Linked DNA regions of Homo sapiens: region 1 is linked to region 2. Evidence: fine-mapped expression QTL. A gene starts in region 2. The other region holds a variant in brackets. All regions are shown on one strand. Distances are between the middles of the regions. Region 1 overlaps FBXO31 (F-box protein 31). Region 2 holds the start of FBXO31 (F-box protein 31).

What was found. PIP is the estimated chance that this variant, and not a neighbour inherited with it, causes the effect.
Region 1: its variant is fine-mapped to the expression of FBXO31 in subcutaneous fat (FUSION, PIP 0.91).

Annotation. Positions count from the first base shown.
Region 1 is chr16:87,337,692-87,340,191 of GRCh38, reverse strand. All of the region lies in intron 5 of FBXO31 (F-box protein 31), which reads left to right. Among named protein-coding and RNA genes, the nearest start is that of C16orf95-DT, 21 kb to the right of the region's middle. The variant A/C (reference allele first, on the strand shown) is at 1,187.
Region 2 is chr16:87,382,394-87,384,893 of GRCh38, reverse strand. It overlaps FBXO31 (F-box protein 31), which reads left to right and starts at 1,118. Exons shown (of 9, transcript NM_024735.5): 1 at 1,118-1,489. The coding sequence starts at 1,150. TRM-CAT6-1 (tRNA-Met (anticodon CAT) 6-1) reads left to right here and starts at 800; the gene lies at 800-872. LOC124903747 (a long non-coding RNA gene) reads right to left here and starts at 961. Exons shown (of 2, transcript XR_007065168.1): 1 at 698-961. RefSeq lists enhancers at 10-661, 662-1,315 and silencers at 723-1,382, 1,523-1,762.

The sequences.
Region 1 (2,500 bases), 45 kb after region 2:
CCTCAGCCTCACTCCCAAGTAGCTGGTATTACAGGCGCCTGCCACCATGCCTGCCTAATTTTTATATTTTTAGCGGAGACAGGTTTTCCCCATGTTGGCCAGGTTGGTCTCGAACTCCTGACCTCAGGTGATCCGCCCACCTCGGCCTCCCAAAGTGCTGGGATTACAGGCGCGAGCCACCGCGCCCGGCCGAATTCTTGTAGTTTTATCGCTATGTTTTATTTTATTTATGGCTTAGAGATAGGGTCTCACTGTGTTGCCCAGGCTGGGCTCAAGTGATCCTCCTACCTCAGCCTCCCAAAGTGTTGGGATTATAGCTGTGAGCCATTGCACTGGCCTATCACTGTATTTTAATTGCCTGTATTCCTCTTCTATTTTGGAATGTTCCCGGCTCATCTTGTTTATTTGCTGTGTGAACTCTAGAAGCAGCTATTTCCCAGAAACATCCCCTTGCTGTCTCTTCTTGCAATTGGAATAGCAGCACGCTTACGGTCAGTGTATGGGGTGCTGCCGTTTGTGTGATGTCCACACCCCCATCCGACATACTCCCTCGGCTCGTCCCGCTTCTGAGCTCCCCCTCCGGGAGTTGACAGGGTGAGGGTGCCACTGTCCCAGGTAGGGCAGAGGCTGGGGCTGCTGACGGTGCTGTACCACCTATCCTCGAGTGAGAGCAGCCTCTCCTCTTCTGCAGGGGCTGCACTGGCTGCGCCCTCCTGTGGGGCTTGTCACCTGCTCCCACAGTCACTTCGTTCATCTTGAGGCCTGCAGTGTCCTCGCTGCTTTTCTCTCACGACGTGTAGGGGTTCAGAGGGTGGGGCTGTCTGTGGATTCATGCATCAGCTGGGAGCTCCTCTCCACTAAAGGCCAGAGAGCAGGTAGGTCACCAGGAGAGCTGCATTCCAGGAAGAGGACATCCCAGGAGGTCTGGACATGGTGACACATCCTGATAATTTTCACAACTGAGGTGAAAGATCAGGGACAGGAATTCGGTACTGCCCTGAGCTCTGCTGGCTGAGAACTTCTGGATCAGCACTGTATTAGTCCATTTTCACGCTGCTGATAAAGACATACCCAAGACTGGGTAATTTATAAGGGAAAGAGGTTGCATGGACTCACAGTTCCATGTGGCTGGGGAGGCCTCAAATCATGGTGGAAGGCGAAAGGCGCATCTTACATGGCGGCAGGC[A/C]AAAAAAGAGAGAACTTGTGCAGGGGAACTCCCCTTTATAAAACCATTGCATCTCGTGAGACTTATTCACTATCATGAGAGCAGCATGGAAAAGACCCCACCCCCATGATTCAGTTACCTCCTGGGGTCCCTCCCATGACATGGGAATTGGAAGAGCTACAGTTCAAGATGAGATTTGGGTGGGGACACAGCCAAACCACATCAAGCAGGTTCCAAGGGAGTGGAGTCCTGTCTGCCCAGGGAGGTTGGAGGGGCCAGGCTCTGGACAGGGGAGGCTTCGAGGGCAATGCAGTCTCTTTGGCATCCCTGCATCTCTGTGTGGGTCACCCCCACCCCGGGAGGCCATTCCTTGTACCCAGGCTGCGTCACTGGCATGATCTGATGATGTTCCCAGGGTTGTGGGTTCCCTCAGCCGTGGGTCCTTGTGAGAAATGGGACGCTCGGGCCCACCCAGACCTGGCCTTTTCTGTATGGGTGCCGGGCCAGGGCAAGCCACCATGTCCCTTCCCACCCCTGTGTGTTTCAGGCCCGCCTCCCCCGCCCCAAGACTGAGGCTTTTGGAAATCTCAGACCTGTGAAAGGAGCAGAGAAGGGAGGATGGGCCATGCTCCTGTTTCAAGCAGCCAGCAGGCATCCTTGTCACCCTCAGCCCCCTCTGCCGGCGCTGCCACGAGGGTCGCGAGTACAATGTGTTGAGTGAGCAGGCCCTGGGTCAACGTGAAGTTGATCGTTGTCGTGCATGTCCTGGGCTCCCTGTTTTTTTTTTTTTCTTGTGGCTTGTATGTGTTGCTCTGATGAGTAATTTCATAATAAACATGCTTGGGACGGCCTTATTCTGGGTAACAGGGTCTGGTTGGTGGTCCCGTTGCTTGGACCTCTTTATGTAAAGCGAGGTCATGGCTACACATGCTCATCTTCCTGATGGTGTCAAGTTGAAGTCGCAGTACTCACAGCGGTAACATTGAAATCTTTGTTCATTACATTCAGTTACTTTTGTTTCTATCTGTTATTTAAAGAGCCTTTCCTCAAGTTCAGCCACTCAGGTTTTAATTTTGATGAGGTCCAATTTGTGAAACTTTTTGTTTTCTTTTATGGTTATTTTCTGAATCCTAAAAAAGTCCTAAAAATTGAGTCCTAAAATACTCAGTTTGCAAAGATAGGCTCCATTTTTTTTTTTTTTAATAGAAGTTTGGTAGCATCACATCAGGTTCTGCATTTGTGTGGAGGCCTGTGCCCCATCTTGAATGATCTTGTGTGTGGCATAAGGCGGGGTCGTGGTTCCTTCTTCTCCATATGAAAACCCAACTGACGGAG
Region 2 (2,500 bases):
CATTTGTGGCTATTTTTGTTTTTTGTTTGTTTTGGAGACAGGGTCACGCTGTGTTGCCCAGGCTGAAGTGCAGTGGCACCATCACGGGTCACTACAGCCTCGGCCTCCTGGGATCAAGCGATCCTCCCGTCTCAGCTTCTCTTTCTAAAATTTTGTTTTGTAGACAGGGTCTCGCTGTATTGCCCAGGCCGGTCTCGAGCTCCTGGCCTCGATTGATACTCCCGCCTGGGCCTCCAAGAGATGGGGTCCGAGGCGAGCCCACGGCGACGTGCGCGGCTGCTCAGGTGAGAGGACGCCTTCGCGGTCACCACCCGCGGACCTGGGAGACGACCCCGCTCAGCGGCCTCGGCGGAGCCCAGCTGGAGCAGGCGTGCGCGGCTCCCAGCAGCTGCAGGAACAGGCGCCCTTTGGGCGGCGCCGCATGGCAGGGCCTCCCTTTCCAGACCGGGCGCGCATCCCCGGATCTCTTGGGCCGCGCCGGCCGCCGCCCCTCCAAGCCCTCCCCGGGGCTTCCGCAGGGAGCTCGGGATCCCCGAAGGTCCCTGCAGAGCTCCGCAGCTCGGGCCTTTTGGTTACCATAAGGCGGAGACGATGGAACGCGCGTTGTTTCAATGGACAAAAGGGCTTCTAGGCGCCCTTTGGGGTTCTGGCTGCTGCCTCTGTATTTGGAGGCTGTAAGGCGCATCTTTCTACTCACCGGCCGGCGCGGCACAGTTTCGGGCGCCGGAAGCGGGACGCACGGGCGCGAGGGGCGACCCCTATCTCCACAAAAGCCGCGGCGCGAAGTGGTCGCCGAGCAGCCTCGTTAGCGCAGTAGGCAGCGCGTCAGTCTCATAATCTGAAGGTCGTGAGTTCGAGCCTCACACGGGGCAGTCTAACGTTTTGCACTCGGCATCACCACTTTCTTTTCTCATGCCCGTCACGGGCGGCGCCCTCACGCTGGAGGGGAGGGCAGCAGTGCGGGGTCTCTGAGGTCGCCGCCCCGCGGGGAGGGGGTGGCGCGGCCGGGGCGGAGCTCTACGTAGGGGCGGGGCTAGGCTCTCCAGGGGGCGTGGCGAGCTCTGCGGCGGGGGCGTGGCTCGGCGCTGGCGGGGCGGGGCCGCGCTGGAGCGTGCGCACAGGCGGCAGCAGTGGCCGTCACTGGGCGGCATGGCGGTGTGTGCTCGCCTTTGCGGCGTGGGCCCGTCGCGCGGATGTCGGCGCCGCCAGCAGCGCCGGGGCCCGGCCGAGACGGCGGCGGCCGACAGCGAGCCGGACACAGACCCCGAGGAGGAGCGCATCGAGGCTAGCGCCGGGGTCGGGGGCGGCTTGTGCGCGGGCCCCTCGCCGCCGCCCCCGCGCTGCTCGCTGCTGGAGCTGCCGCCCGAGCTGCTGGTGGAGATCTTCGCGTCGCTGCCGGGCACGGACCTACCCAGCTTGGCCCAGGTCTGCACGAAGTTCCGGCGCATCCTCCACACCGACACCATCTGGAGGAGGCGTTGCCGTGAGGGTGAGCGCGCGGGGGTGGCGGGGCCGGGAGGGGCGGGGGGTCCCTGCCAGGTGGAGGCCTCGGAGCTGGGAGTGGCGGGGGCGGTGGCCCCGGCCGGGGGCCACCAGTTGGGCGCGGGGCCCGGCGATGTGGTGTTTTGGGTGTGGGTGGGGAGCGGCCGCGGTGACACCACGTTGAGGGGGCCAGGGAGGTATTTGAGGCGGTTAGGGAGGGTCCGAGGGGTCCAAGAGAGGCAGACGGGGTAGGGAGGGGTTGAGGGCGTCAGGGAGGCATCGAAGAGGCCCTGACGCGGGGCACGGGACACCACGGGGCCGAGGCCGTGCCGGGAGCTGGGGCTGGGATCCCTCGAGGTCTGCGCGGGGCCTAAGCTGACGCCTGGGGGCCGCCTCCTCTGCCCCTGTCTTGAAGGCGAGCCGAGGGTGCCCCGCTGGCCCTGACCAGAGACGAGGTGAACTTGAAGAAATGGGAGCAGGCCGGGCGCGGTTTCACGCCTGTAATCTCAGCACTTAGGGAGGCCGAGGCGGGCGGGTCACCTGAGGTCAGGAGTTCGAGACCAGCCTGGTGAAGATGGTAAAACCCCGTCTCTACTTACAAAAATACAAAAATTAGCCGGGCGTGGTAGCGGGCGCCTGTAATCCCAGCTACTCGGGAGGGTGAGGCAGAAGAATGGCTTGAACCCGGGAGGCGGAGGTTGCACTGAGCCAACATCTGGGCCATTGCACTCCACCCTAGGCGACAGAGTGCGACTTGGTCTCAAACAACAGCAACAAAAAAAATTACGGGAGTAGGGGAAGCCCAGTGTCGGGGGCTCCTGATGGTGGGGGCGTAGAGAGACGGATGGATCACAGCGGTGCGGGCTGGACTTTTGCCTTCAGCAATATTGGATGTAACAGATCACAGGAGGAGATGTTTATTTAATCTGGAGTTCAAGGCTCTCTCTGTTTAAAGGTTGACAGCTCTTTGATGTTCAAGCAGCTCATATTTAGGTAAAAAGGACAGGTTAGAAAACAT